Linked DNA regions of Homo sapiens: regions 1 and 2 are each linked to region 3. The links come from fine-mapping of genetic effects on gene expression. A gene starts in region 3. Each other region holds a variant in brackets. All regions are shown on one strand. Distances are between the middles of the regions.

The links. PIP is the estimated chance that this variant, and not a neighbour inherited with it, causes the effect.
Region 1: its variant is fine-mapped to the expression of ADCY7 in whole blood (TOPMed, PIP above 0.99).
Region 2: its variant is fine-mapped to the expression of ADCY7 in whole blood (TOPMed, PIP above 0.99).

What each region holds. Positions count from the first base shown.
Region 1 is chr16:50,338,162-50,343,161 of GRCh38, forward strand. BRD7 (bromodomain containing 7) reads right to left here. Exons shown (of 17, transcript NM_013263.5): 6 at 1,815-1,925. Among named protein-coding and RNA genes, the nearest start is that of BRD7, 28 kb to the right of the region's middle. The variant C/A (reference allele first, on the strand shown) is at 2,161.
Region 2 is chr16:50,351,654-50,356,653 of GRCh38, forward strand. BRD7 (bromodomain containing 7) reads right to left here. Exons shown (of 17, transcript NM_013263.5): 3 at 3,140-3,269; 4 at 2,772-2,829. LOC124903785 (small nucleolar RNA U13) reads right to left here and starts at 639; the gene lies at 536-639. The variant C/A (reference allele first, on the strand shown) is at 2,680.
Region 3 is chr16:50,264,122-50,269,876 of GRCh38, forward strand. ADCY7 (adenylate cyclase 7) reads left to right here and starts at 2,430. Exons shown (of 26, transcript NM_001114.5): 1 at 2,430-2,559. RefSeq lists enhancers at 327-506, 1,574-2,167, 2,113-2,202.

The DNA.
Region 1 (5,000 bases), 74 kb after region 3:
CCATGTCTTTAAACCTGGAATATGGCATGGTTCTAGATTCTGAGAGTCTTCCTGCAAAGAATGGGTAAACATTTCATATTCCTCTTTCCTCTGCGAATGTTGTCAAAGATGGGTAACTGGCTTCCATTAGTTTCCCAAGTCTTTAGGAAAGGGTGGGAACCAAAGTTGTCTAAATATTAGGAGCGCAAGAATAATCAACAATCCAAACATGTTTTTCTTTCTCTAGTTAAGTGAATCCAAGAATCTCTCAGCCAAGCATACAGACACTCAGACATCTGCACACCAAGGCATTTCTTTAAATGTAAAACTGTAATACAGAAAAATGAATCACCATAAAAATCGAAAAACCACATGCAGATGCACGACTCATTTTTATCATCCTTTAACTCCCCTGAATGTGAGCTCAAGCTCTGGACTCTGATTCCTTTCTCCTTCTACCAGTGTCTTATACCCACTCATTTCTTCTTTGCAAAATCCCTGTCCTATCTTGTGGTTCTTTTTCATAGTATCCTCTCTACTCTACCTCTTATCTAGAATCAGAACAGTAATGCTAGAAATCATCTTGGAGACCACAGACTAAACCCTTCTTTAGGGATGAGAACACTGAGTCCCAGGGTAGTTAATGTCTTGCCCAAAGTCCACAAGTTAGTGGAAGAGAGCTAAAATGAAAACTCTCTTCTGCCTGCCTGCCATGGTATGGTATGGTGCCAGGATCACCCTTGATTCGTTCCCTAAAGTAGTCTCTTACATAGGTTTCTCCCACTCAGAGTGGTGAGAAAAACCTCAAAAGATATGGCTTATCTTGCGAGTTATTTTCTCCAGCGGATGCACAGTGATCATCTCAGCTTACCCTTCAAAGCCTTTTATCAACTGTCGTCCTGGGGACACTAGTAATTTTTTGCCACTGTGTATAATATCTCATGTTTACGCTCTTTCCTGCAGTTTGATGATGATGTGTCTGTGCCTACGCACACACTTCTCTGACCTCAAATGACTTACTATGCACTAATTCTTACCCTTTAAGGAAGAGTCTGCTGTTGTGGAGAGGTGGTTTTGAGACAGTTTCAAATTTTCTCTCATTTGTATATAGTCACATGTAGCTTAATGAAGGGACGCGTTCTGAGAAATGTACTGTTAGGCAATTTTGTTGTGTGACCATCAATGAGTACACTCACACAAACCTAGATGGTATAGCCTATCAGACACCTGGCTAAATGATATAGCCTACTGCTCCTAGGCTAGGAACCTATACAGCATGTTACCATACTGAATACTGCAGACAGCTGTAACACAATGCTAAGTATGTGTGCATTTAAATATAACAAAAGTACAGTAAAAATACAGTATTACAATCTTATGGAACCACCACTGTATATGCAGTCTGTATATACAGTATTATGCAGCGCATGACTGTATTTTCTTACTAGAAATTCTGTGCTTCTGACAGGACTGACCAACGTTAGATTCCACCCCTACAAATGCAAACAGAGAGCTTTCCTCTTCAGAGTTCTCACAATTCAGCCAGTCTTATCCTGGAATTCAGGCTGATGTTTCAAGCTGATGTTTTATGTCTTAAGAGATAATTACAAGTGAATGCCAATATTTATTTGTATTGATTCCAAGTAAGAATTTTCCTGTCTTAATTTTCTTCTCTTTATTAAAATTTTTTTCATTTAGTATTTTCTACTTTATTTAATATAATATAACCTGCTAATAAAATAAAATCAATACTGTATTGTATCTGTATTACTATGGCCAACAAACAGCGACACAGATTTTAATAACTATTATTTATGACAAAGAGTTTCCTTTACCTGGCTAAGAATTTTCATTCCTGAGTGCAACAGCTTCTTTGCAGCTTTATAATAAATGGTCTCTGGTTTATTGTAAATCATGGCATTAGTACACATTAGTTTGAAGTTATCCTGCAGAAAGAACATTAAGGGAGAAAATGCATTAATGCAAAACAAACTACCCTGCACCCCCAGGTTGAAAATATACAGGTCCTCTAAAAATTTAAAAAGCAACATCCCTTTCTTTATTTACTAAACAATACTAACAGTAATTTATTAAGTTTTAAGACTCACCAACAAAACAAATACTGCTAAATGTATTTAAATATGCTATATTATTTCCCAAATTCTTAAATATTTTATAGTA[C/A]CTGTATATAAACTGTAGATCCCAGAATGAAACTTTTAAATGGGTTTCTTCAGTATAATCTTACTGCACATAAAAAAAATGTGAAGAAAATACTTCTATTTCATATGTAATGATTTTAGCTGAGTAGTTCATGTAAATAAAAAAAATATTACTCCTAGCTTTAAAACAAACATCTTAAATTTCCATTTAGGAATTGAACATTTTATTTCAGATCTTGACTGAAAACGGAGCAGTCCTAAATTATCGCAGTATTTCCTGCCAAATTCACATTAACTGAGCAAAAAATGTTAAAACATTTACACTACTTTTATGTGTTTGGATACTATCATAAACTAAACATAATTTGCAGAATGTTGCAAAACCATGCCAATGTGAAATAAACCATACAACCTCAAGGAGTTAAAACATGTAACTGGAGTAGCCAAATTACCAAAACTGTCTTTTTGGCTTAAATTTCCAAGTCCGCTATGTGCTGGAGAACTTGACCCCACTGCATGCTTTCATAGTTAAGTAATTTTTACATCTATAAATGTGCGATTCATTATGCCAAGGCCTTACTAAGTTGAAAGAAAAACCCAAGAAAAGAGAATCTGCCCCCTACAAATTTGTTTAAAAAACAAAAAAAATTCAAATTCCACTATTTAATAGTGATGACAGGTTAGAACACTTAAATAGAACAAAAATAAGTAGACTGAGTTCTATGTACAAGTACGTAAGACTGAGTGAAGGGTCGCAATAAATTTGGTATTAAAGTGGATGAAGTATATGTGGATCTTCAGTTTGGGCCATGACTGTAAATATGCCAGGTCTTGGATCTCTAAGCATCTGATGAAAGCTATGGGACCAGACCTTAAGTACACACACACACACACACACACACACACACACACACACACACAGCTGAACACAAAAGTCTTCATGTAATTTTAGTAGGTTCTTGGTCCCTCTAAAGGCTCATTATGGTATCCAAAGGACCCTAGATTAAAGACCTTTGTTACAGATATTTGGAAAAGCTTCCAGGCCATTAAGAATTACTAGGCTGGGCATAGTGGCTCACCCTTATAATTCTAGCACTTTGGGAGGCCGAGGCAGGTGGACTGCTTGAGCCCAGGAGTTTGAGACTGGTCAGGGCAACATGGTGAAACCCCGTCTCTACTAAAAATACAAAAAAATTAGCTGGGTGTGGTGACACACCCCTGTAGTCCCAGCTACTTGGGAGGCTGAGGCACAACAATTGCTTGAACCCTGAACGTGGAGGTTGCAGTGAGCCAAGATCATGCCACTGCACTCCAGCCTGAGCAACAGAGTGAGACTCGGTCTCAAAAAAAAAAAAAAAAAATTAAATATGTATTTGGGGGGATGGGACGCAAGTGAACGGAGATACTAGATTACTATATATACTCAAACTAAGTGACCATTTGGCCTATAATTGGCCAGATAATGGGCCTATGAACTGGCAAGAGTACTGAATTGTTCTAATGAACACAGGACTGATCTATTAAGCCAATTTGTAGATTCCTTAAATCTTAACATAATGTGCTGGGCTTTACTGAACTGTGGGTGATGGCACTGGTCATTCAAAAAGCTGAGTCTTCCTGCACACTTTTCACACACACACACACACACACACACACACACACACACACATTTTACTTCAACTGCCAAATGAACTGAATAAATATTACTTTAGGCCGTTGAGCTTTCCCTAGAAAAAAGTGGCAACGTAGAAATTCTAAAGAGCTAAGATACCAATTCCTTTCAATTATGATAAACCCTAACCTGCTTAAAAACACTCTGGGGACACACTTCTACTCTTCTTACTGTAAGAGAAAGATCAGAGGAAAATCATGCAGAAAAAAAACAAAAAACAAAAAACTGTGAAATTCTTTCCCATTAAGCAATGGTAAGGTCAGAAATATGCTGAAATAAACGGTTTTAGCCTAATTTTCACCAGATAAAAAGTTGGGAAAAGTTTCTATTTCTCGAAATAAGAGAGAATGTAATTCAGATTCTTTGGAGAAAGTGGAATATTACCTATAAACTCAACAGTAAAGAGCACTAAACACTGATATTCTTCATAAATCTCTGCTTATCAATATGTGGATGAAAAAAGGGACTAAGTAAAGACACTGTCTTTTTTTTTTTTTTTTTTTTTGAGATGGAGTCTCACTCTGTCGCAAGCTCTGCCTCCTGGGTTCACGCCATTCTCCGGCCTCAGCCTCCCGAGTAGCTGGGACTACAGGCATCCGCCACCACACTCAGCCAATTTTTTTGTATTTTCAGTAGAGACGGGGTTTCACTGTGTTACCCAGGATGGTCTTGATCTCCTGACCTTGTGATCCACCTGCCTCGGCCTCCGGAAGTGCTGGGATTACAGGTGTAAGCCACCACACCTGGCCATAAAGACACTATCTTATTTTATTTTTAGGAAAATAACTAATTAGGGTAACCAATTAGGGTCTAACCCTTATAGGTCAGGTGAGCACTACTGTGGTTATGTAAAACAAAGTAGAGGTAAAACAGATATTATCTAAACCAATTAAGTTTGTGGCGGTTGAATACATAGTAAATTTTAATATACATGGTTCCTTTCCCTGGAATCAACACACACCAGGACACTCCCTCAAATGGGAAAAACCTCATCTATAATAGGTATATATATTATAAGTTTTCAGGTCCTTGTAAATTTTCTATACTCTTCTTAAAGCTGAAGAAAATATGCTCAACAAATATAGCCAAAATGAACTCAGAGAGCAATTAACTTTCATCAAATTAGAAAATGTAATTAAACTTCTCTTTAGTATTTCTGGACAAGCCAATTTATTCTTTACTTTAGAGTA
Region 2 (5,000 bases), 87 kb after region 3:
TGGCTCTGGGTTCTAATTCCCAATGTCTTTAGACTAAGAAATACTTCCTGAAGTGTTTTTTCATTAAGACTTTGTTTCTAATTGACATATAATAATTGCACATATTTAGAGGGTACAGTGTGATGTTTCGACACATATATACTAACATACATATATACAAGGATACTTCGGTGTATCCTTGTATGTATGTATGTATGTATGTATAAGGTGTAATAATCAAATCAAGGTAATTAGCATATTTATCACCCCAAACACTTGTTATTTCTTTGGAATAAGAACATTCAAAATCCTTTCTTTTAGCTATTCTGATGTATATAATAAATGGTTGTGGACTGCTGTCACCTTACTGTGCAACAGAAGACCAGAGCTTATTCCTCCCATCTAACTGTAATTCTGTACCTGCTGACCAACCTCTACCTTTCCCTTGCCTCTGGTAACCACTGTTCTACTCTCTACTTCTATGAATCAACTTTTTAAGATCCCACATGAGTGAGATGATGTCATATTTGTGCCCTCACCATATTTTCTGTCTTCACATCAGATGGGTAATGTGCTGATGTTGTAACAAAGTTTGAGGGCGGTATATCTCACAAAGGAACATGAAAACCCAATCATTACACTTATGAACTACAAAAGGATCGTGCAGTATTTGTTCTTCTGTGTTTGGCTTATTTAACATGATGTCCTCTAGGTTCATCCATGTTGTTACAAATGATAGTATTTCATTCTTTTTAATGGTGGAATAATACTCCATTGTGTATACATACCACATTTTAAAAAATGCATTCATCCATTGATGGGCACTTAGACTGATTCCATCTTGGCTACTATGAATAGCACTGCAATTAACACAAGAGTACAGGTATCTCCTGGACATACTGATTTCATTACCTTTGGATATATACCCAGTAGCTGAATTGCTGGATCATATGGTAGTTCTATTTTTAATTTTTTAAGGAACTTGTTGTCCATAATGGCTATACTAATTTACATTTCCACCAACAGTATATACAATTTCCCTTTCTCTACCACATTCTTGCCAGCTTTGTTTTTTTTTTTTTTTTGTCTTTTGATAACAGGCATTCTAATTGGGGTGAGGTGATTTTGACTTGCATTTCTCTGATTATTAGTGATGGTGAGCATTTTTTCATATACCTGTTGGCCATTTGAATGTCTTCTTTTAATTAAGTCATTTCTTTTAAGGTGACATCATTAACCTACATTCTGGCCTTACGTTGCAAGAAAAACTCTAAGGCAGCCATGACATTTTACAGTCACACCTTGTAAATTGCAATGGAATACCCAATACCTATTCACTCCTTTCGGACAAGTAGTGAAGTAATGAACAAGTTATTTAAATATAAAGACTAGATGTAATTTTTCTCAAACACCAAAAAAGAAGAGAGATCAGTAAGTTCTTTTTTTTTTTTTTTTAGAAAAGATCTCATTCTGTTGCCCAGGCTGGAGTGCAATGGTGCTATCACAGCTCACTGTAGCCTCAACCTCTTGGGCTCAAGTGATCCTTCCACCTCAGTCTCTGGAGCTGGGACTACAGGTGTGTGCAACCACACTAGGATAATTTTTATTTTTTTGTAGAGATGGGGTCTCACTATGTTGCCCAGGCTGGTCTTAAACTCCTGGCCTCAACTGATCCTCCCACCTCAGCCTCCCAAAGTGTTGGGATTACAGGTGTGAGCTACTATACTCGGTTAACTTCTGATCTTAACTGCAAACCTGAACAGGCATTGAATACAGATTACATTAGAGAAAAATTATTTACAATGTGTTCTGGGTTGACTTAAGTTCAATACAATGAAAGAAAGTCCACTGTAAAAATGTATGATCTACAACCATAAACCCTTTGCAAATAATGGAAATATCTTTGAGCTGAAAATTTAAACTCTGAGTAGAGAGATATCAAAATAAATATATTTTATTTATTTATTTATTTATTTTTTGAGACGGAATCTTGCTCTGTTGCCCAGGCTGGAGTGCAGTGGTGCAATCTCGGCTCACTGCAAGCTCCATCTCCTGGGTTCACACCATTCTCCTGCCTCAGCCTCCCAAGTAGCTGGGACTACAGGCGCCCATCACCATGCCTGGCAATTTTTTTTTTTTTTTTTTTAAGTACAGATGGGGTTTCACCATGTTAGCCAGGATGGTCTCAATCTCCTGACCTCGTGATCTGCCCGCCTCGGCCTCCCAAAGTGCTGGGACTACAGGCGTGAGCCACCACACCCGGCCCAAAATAAATATTTTAATAAAGATTGAGTTATTCTTTTCCCTTTTAAGAACTCAACAGTAGCTTAATCTAGGCACTGAAATTTTTAGAACCAATTTCTGCATTTAAAAGAAGGCCATAATTCCTATTTATGGTGTTTTATTTTTTCTCCCATACTTAATAATTGCTAAACATTTGTGGCATGATAAGCATTGTACAAATACATAGAAGGTATTTCCATCTATTAGCAAAGTGGAAATATCTGTATTGTTTATTCCTGGCTTAAAGTTTTAACATCAGAAATTACTTTAGAGACAGAAATTTGTCATTAAAAGTATTATGTAACACCCTTCAAGTTGCCAGGGAAACAAACCAAATAAAGAATATCTAAAAGTTAGCCTAGCCTCTTGGAGTACTTCTGCTGCCAGGCAAAATATTTATCATTCACTTTAAAATCA[C/A]GTATGTTTGGAGTTAGGCACAAATGTGGTTTGGATCCTACACATCTACCATTTTAATTTCTATGTTATAAAAATATTGGAAAAACATTTACCTCTGCAATTGTCTCATCAGTTGATTCAAAGCTTCTTGAAGGGGTGTCTGTTCTACTTCTAAAGCAAAGAAGAAGGGAAAAGGGTATTTTAAAAAGGAGTATTCTAGAGAGTATTATTTACTAGATCATTTTCTACAACCATTATTAAATATCTCATACAGAAATTCCATTTATCTTAAAAATATATTGAAGTTTGAGAGTATTAATCCAAAATTGAAGCTAATTTAAAGCTCTTATGCAGTTTGAGAGAAAAAACTTAAAAATTCAATCACAAAGCTCCAACTTAGAAGCTAAAACCCCACCATTTTCCTGAGCTATAATGATTTCAGCCTCCTCATTCAGGATAGTTAATTCAGAGTTATTCCAACCTTCTTGTTTGGCTAAAGAGCTTGTGAGAGGCTTCTCAGGAGGCAAGTCTAATCTCACAGGGGCGTGACACTGGAGATCTTTTTCTGCCTCATTCTCCACCCGGTCTCGATCTCGCTTCTTTTTATCCTCCTAAATGGAACAAAGGGAGATAATTTAGAAATATTTCAGAACCAATATCTTTAAATACATAAATCATTTTAAGGGGTAAAAAGACATCATTGTAAAGAAAATATTCTTAATAACAAGCTCAATGTACTTTACTGCCATCTACTGGAAAAGGAGAGAATAATACGTTCACGAAGGAAAAAACAAAGGGGGTCTCTATGCCAGAAATAACCAGTTAGAAAAACAATACTATCCAAAAAAGCAACATAGTGTATATAGAAATAAATCTAATAAAAGATACCCAAAACCTTTTGGGAAAAACTGTGAAACATTACTGAAGGTCACAGAAGGCCTGAATAAAGGAGATATACTATGTTCATGAATTCAGAGTCAATCCTCTCTCAAGTTATCAATACATTCGATGTAATGCCAATCGAAATTTAAAAACAAAAATTTCCATGGAATTCAACAAGCCAATTGCATTAATTTACCTCGAAGAGTGAACGATTAAGAACACAATAGTTTTGAAAAAGGTCAGAGTAAGATGATACGTCTTACCAGATATTATTTGTATAACGTGATAATAAGACAATGTGGGTCTGACACACAGACAAATAAGCCAACAGAAGAGATCAGAGCCCAGAAACAGACCCATGTACATAGAATAATCTTAGTATATCACAGAGGTGACATTATAAGTCAATGACAAAAGGGTGGTGCTGAGACAACTGTTACCTGAAAAGAGAAAATAGAATTTGAGCTCTACTTCATGCCATACACAAAAGTGAATTCCAGATAAAGACTTAAATGTACAAAGCAAAGCTTCAGAACTTCAGATAAAAGAAAAGCATCTTTAAGACCCAAGAGTAGAAAAAGACTTTCTTAAAAAGATATAAAATGAATAAATTTTAAAGGAAAACCTTGATAAATTTGATATTAAGTTGATAAATTTTGGTACCTCAACAAAATCCATGAACCAAGTTAAAAATCTAACGATAGACTGAGATAAAGTACTTGAAACACAACTTATAAAACATTAAGGATTCCATGAAGAGCATCTATAAATCTATGCAAAAAGGCAAAAAATCCAAAAAAGAAATAGATAAGTGATATCACAGGTAACTCACAGAATAAGAAATGTGAAATGTTGAGAACATGAGAACTAGCTCAAGCTCCCTAGAACTTGGGTAATTATAGATTTAAAAACTAGAAGGCATTTCGCCTCTCTTTGGCAACATTTGTCTGAAATGTCAAGTTTTGATAAAAATGTAGAGAAATGGGATTTTCATACCTTGCAATTGGGTGAATAGGAACAATCCTTAGCAGAGCAATTAGCAATATCTAGCAAAGCTAGCAAAGCCTTTAACCTACTTCTCAACTGCTACTCTCTGTGCATATACCAGAGAAATTTCCTGTCGTATGGTCTACATGGAGACTTGTAAGAGATTACTGCAGCATTGTTTAAAATAGTAAAAAATAGGAATAATCCAATGCCTATTAAAAGGAAAATAGATTAATAAATTGTGTCATATTTACATAACAGGTAATGTAAATGAGCTAAAATTGTATTGTATCAACATGGATAACATTCAGAAACAATGTCTGAAGAAAAGTTGCAGAACAATTACTGTTACAAGCTATGTATGAAAATGTGTAAGCATACATTGTTTACAGATGTATGCAGAACTTGTAATTATAAAAACATGCATGTGATATACACCAAATTCAGTACAGTGGTTCTATCAGAAGGAAAGA
Region 3 (5,755 bases):
CCTTTCCAATCAGCGGCCTCCCTAGAGGCAACCGCTGTCTTGCTGTCTGTCACTGTAGATTAGTTTCATCATTTCTGAAGTTTCATATAAATGGAAACGTGCTGAATGTGTCTTTTGTGGGTGGGTCTTTCACTGTCCTTGCCATCTTGGATATTCATTCATGTTGTGTGTTAGCAGTGATCTGTTCCTTTTTACTGCTGAGTAATTTTCTGTTGTGTGAATATATGAAAATTTGTTTATCCATTTACTCATTGCAGGATGTTTGGGTTTGCAGTTTGACTGTTAGGATGAAAGCTTCTCTGAACACTTGGATAGAAGTCATTTGTGGACACATGTACTCATTTCTTTTGGGTAAATACCTGAGATTGAATTGCTGAGTCATTGGGGAAGCATATGGTTTGCTTTTGTCCACACTGCCAGGCAGTTTTCATCATGGTGGCTCCATTTTACATTCCCACTAGCAGTACATGAGAGTGAAGAGCTGCTTCTCCTCCTTGTCAACACTTGGTATTTTCATTTTAATTTTAGCCATTCTAGTGGTACAGTGGAATCTCTATATGGTTTTAATTTGCTGGTGGCTAATGATGTTGAGTATCTTTTTCATGTGCTTATTGGTCATTTTGGCATCCTCTTTGTTGAAGTACCTGTGTAAGTCTCTTGTTCATCTTTTAATTGGGCCATTTGTCTTTTTCTTATTGGTTTGTGGGAGGTCTTTTTTTTTTTTTTTTTTTCTGAGACAGAGTCTCACTCTGTTGCCCAGGCTGGAGTGCAGTGGTGTGATCTCGGCTCACTGCAACCTCTGCCTCCCAGGTTCAAGTGATTCTCCTGCCTCAGCCTCCCAAGTAGCTGGGATTACAGGCTCATGCCACCACGCCTGGCTAATTTTTGTGCTTTTAGTAGAAACGGGATTTTGCCATGTTAGCCAGGCTGGTTTCAAACTCCTGACATCAGGTGATCCGCCCACCTTAGCCTCCCAAAGTGCTGGGATTACAGGCATGAGCCACCATGCCAAGCCTGGGAGATCTTTATATATGCTAGGGAGGAGTCTTTTGTCAGTCATATAGGATGTGACTTTCTCCTAGTCAGTGGCTTGTCTTTCCCCTCTTTTGATGATGATGATGTCTGTTCCTTCTCTGCTCTGGGACATTTGCTAGGGAGACATTTGCTGATAGGAGGGCGACCCTGATGGGGAGGATCCCCTGAGGTCTCCCACTCCCTCCTGTGGCCTCTGGAGCAGCCTGGAACCCTGTGTGAGTCCTATGCCTGTCTCCACCAGATGGCAGACCTTAGATCACCTGCTAGTTCCCTGCATGGGGCCTGGCACAGAGACAGCACCTAACATGTTCAGTTCCTCCTGATCAGTATGTGTGGGATGTCTACTCTGTGACCAGCTGGGGCTGGACGCTGGGGACACAGCTGTTGATATTACAGCTGCCCTCCCATCTCTGCCCTCCTCAAGGATATAACCTAGGAAAGACAGACCAGCAACCAGTGGTCACAGCACAGAGGTGCTGTGATGGAGGAAGGTGCAGGGGTTAGAAGACCAGAAGAGGGGTGTCTGACCCTGGATGTGGGAGGTGGAGGAGGTACACCATTGCTTTGAGGAGCTCGTAATCCCAGGATGCCAGTCACATGCTCAGAAGGGCTCCCTGAGGACCAGGTGCTGCTGTGGCCAGCGGGCTGGAGGCCTCCCCCTCTGTTTTGGGAGTCTCCACTCTCTCCTCTTAGCCTCTCCTGATCTGCTCCCTCGCCACTGAGCGCCCCATGATCCCAGTGGGGAAACTGAGGCCTGGCATAGCAGAAGGGGTGCTGGGGTTTGATTCCCAGCCTCATGGTGCCCAGGGATGTTGGGGGCTCTCCAGGGACTCTGATTTTGGAATAGGAGCCCCAAGGATGGGCCTGCCCCTGCCCTGCTCCCAGCATGGGAGCGTAGGTGAGATGGAGAGGCAGTGGGCTGGGCTGGAAGATCTTTGACCTCTCCTGGGCCCCTCTCAGAGGTGGACGGGGCCACCTTACTACATAGATAGGGAAATTGAGTCCCAGGAAGGCGCGGGGGGCCTGTCTGTGAGCGTCAGAGCCCACAGGAGGCTCAGGCCAGGCCGCTAATTGCTAATTGCTCACTAAGGATGCATTTGCTCCCCACTTTGAACAGTTGTCTTGGGGCTTCTAATGGAGGTTTTTGGTGCTTGTTTTATTATTATTTTTTCAAAATTGTTCCAGCTTCAAGCTTCAAATTTCCATGAAGTCATTGGAGCCCGACAGCTCCCAGGCCTGGCAGCTCCCAGGCTGCGGAGAGCAGCACTGTGGCTGGGGGAGGGGGCCCTGCACACCCCGAGAGGCTGGGCTGTGGGCTGTGCCTTAGCCTTGCTGCCGCCGCCGCCGCTGCTGCCGCTGCCGGAGCAGGAAGTGGTGGGTCCCAGATGTGACTCACTCTCATTAGGTAGCGTGGAAGGAGCCTTCGGATGGGTGAGCCTGGGCGCGTCTGAGGAAGGGCAGGCGGGGGCCGGGCCACCTCCCTGCAGACCCTGGCCGGCTGCTGGGGCCGGGGAGGAGAGCCAGGTAAAAGTGGGGTGTGGGGATGGAGTGTCACCAGTCCTAGTGGCTTGAGCCCCAGGGGACGGGGCTGGACAGTGGGTGGGAAGCAGCTCACCCGGCAGCCTGGCCTGGGAGTGCACTGGGCAGGGTCTGGGCTGGGGGAGTAGGAGGCTCCGTGAGCCTACTGGGCAGATGGCTGGGAGAGGCGGCCCTTCAACAGGGGACCAGAGGCGACTTGTCACTGGCTTTTCCCAGCCTGACAAGAAAGTGCGGTTGTGACCACAATGTTGTACATGTGGCCCGTTCCATCTGGAATTCTAGGAACCACAGACTCTCAAATGTCCACACTCCTTCTCGAGGGTGTAATTTTACATTTACAAGCACACATGACTTTTCTCAATGAAAGGAAACATTGGCAAGGGAAGGCCAATTCAACTAATTTTATGAAATTATAAAACAAAAAACAAACAAAACCTCTGAAAGGAGTGCATGCCTGAGGGTCAGGAAACCAAGATGCCTCCAAAAAGCAGACTGGTTTCCCTTTCCCTGCAATGCCTCTCCTCTATCCCCCAGGGACCGCATGGGCCATCTGGAGTGGGTCTTTCTGGAGCGGGTCTTTCTGGAGCTTTCTATGCATTCATCTAAACATGTATGTACAGAGGGTGAGGCAGTTGCCTCTTCTCTGTGTCATCACATCAGGGTCAAGGGCAGGGACATCTGTGGCTGGGGGCTTCCTCCCTGGACAGCCATTGCTGGAGAGGAGAAGGGAGGGCCGGGAGGGGGAAGCCAAGGGCCTGGAGGTAGGGGCCAGGCCGAGCCACCTACGACAGGGGCCCTGGGTCCAAGGCCTGGACGGGCAGCCAGTGTGGGCTGGATGTGTCTGGAAGGGCTATGTGACCGTGGGCCTTCACTAGCATCACCATCTTGCAGATGGAGGCTGTGAGGGGTGGACTCAACACCAGTGTTTCTCGGAGTGAGGACCGGGCTGCCCAGGGAATCACAGGGGGTTCTAGCCTGTGTGTGGAAGGACATGTTTAAAATCTAAGTATTTGTCTTGGGGAAAAAAAAATCTGTAAATAGGACATTGCCATTGTGACATCATGACTGTATTATTGTCTTAGACGAGGCCAAAGGAGACATAAAAGTGACAAGCCAGCCAATTTGAGAGGAAGTGCCAAGTGCCAGCCCTGCAGGAAGTGCAGGAGGCTGAGGGGGCTGCAGCTCAGGAAGGCGTTTGCTGCACAGCCTTCGCTTCCCACCCAGTTGTCTGTCTTCCCACCTCCAGAGGCCCTGGGTTCCCAAGGTTTACCTGCAGCTCCTGGTGCAGAGTGTGGGGGAGGGGAGGCTCTCAGATTGTTCCAGATTCTGTGGCCCTCAGAAGGGCAGGTGTGAGCTTTGTGGAGGTAGCGTCTCCGGTGGTATTTTCTTTCTTTCTTATTTTTATTTATTATTATTTTTTGAGATGGAGTCTCTGTCTGTTGCCCAGGCTGGAGTGCAGTAGTGACCCTCTTGGGTCACTGTAACCTTTGCCTCCTGGGCTTAAGCCGTCCTCCTCCCTCAGCCTCCTGAGTAGCTGGGACTACAGTTACCACACCACTACACCTGGCTAATTTTTGTATTTTTAGTAAAGTAAAGACGGGGTTTCACCATGGTGGCCAGGCTGGTCTCAAACTCCTGACCTCAAATGATCCATCCACCTCGACCTCCCAAAGTGCTGGGATTATAGGTGTGAGCCACCACCCCCAGCCTCTTTTCTTTTTTTAAGACAGGATCTCACTCTGTCACCCATGCTGGAGTGCAGTGGAGTGGTCATAGCTCACTGCAACCTTGAACTCATGAGCTCAGGCAATCTTACCGCCTCAGCCTTCTAAAGTGCTGGGATTACAAGCATGAGCCCGACGCCCAGCCTTCTAGTGCTGTTTTCATGAAAGAAGCAGCTGTTTACTAGCAGCTGTTTTCCGGGTGATGAGGGTGAAGGTGGTATTGCAGAACATCTTTGCCAGGAGTAGGTCTGGGAGGTTTGCTTGAGGGCATGGAGGTTGGTGTAGGGAGAGCTCAGGAAGTAGAAATTGGGCTGGAGTGTGGCCTCTGGACAGGCCACAGGAGAGTCTCAAAAGGAGAAAAGATCCCAGCACTTTGGGAGGCCAAGGTGGGCGGATCACTTGAGCCCAGGGGTTCGAGACCAGCCTGGGCAACATGGCGAAACCCCGTCTCTACAAAAAATACAAAAATTAGCTGGGTGTGGTGGCGTGTGCCTGTAGTCCCAGCTACTTGGGAGGCTAAGGCAGGAGGATCCTTTGAGCCCAGGAGTTGGAGGCTGTAGTGAGCCATGACTGTGCCACTGCACTCCATCCAGCCTGGGTGACGGAATGAGACCCTGTCTCAAAATAAATAAATTTTTCAAAAGAGACAAAAGTCCGACTCGATGGTTGCACTGGGGACATGCACCCCACTCTACAATTTATAGCTACTGATTTGACCCATTCCCCACCTCCTCCACCGCTCCATATGGTAGGTGCCGTTCACCTCCAGTTTACAGAGGAGACAGGGCCCAGAGGGGCTGTCTATCCTGAATAACCCAGCAGATCGGTCCTCAGGCATCCAGTTGTGCCCACCACAGTGTGGTCTGCTGCCACATTTGAGCCTGGAGTCAGGGCCAGCACACTGTGTCTTTGGCGAGATCAGATGGGGCAAAGCTGAGAACAGGGGCTCTGGTTGGTGCTGAGGGATTCGTGGGGGTGGTCCTTACTGGGAAGATGAGGAATTGGGCTCCTGTGAGGGCCTCCCCTACCCTGCCCTGTGCCTGGACTTCGCTGGGCCCACTGCGGGAGAGAAGAGGTAGGACGAGGCCTTCTGCGTGGCTGGGCCAGGGTGGGCTGTCTCACGTGCTTTCCTGGATGTGTGGTTGGGTCATGCCTTAGCCAGGAGGTAGGTGGTTTGTCCACTCCCTGTCATTGCAAGGGTCACAGAGGTGGCTGGGTGGCCTGACCCTCAGCACCGCTCCTTGCCTCCCTCCTGCTGTCCTGGAGGAAGAGGATGTGGACTTGTTCATACTGAGGTGACACAGCATCCTCTCTCCTACCTCTCCCACTGCCCAGGGAGAGAGCAGCGCTTAACTCCGCTGGAGAAAGTTCCAGGCCTTTGAGGGAGCATGCAGAGTGGGTCACAGTGGATGCCTGTATCAGAGCAGCCCATTCTAGCCTTTCATGGGGTGGGAGGG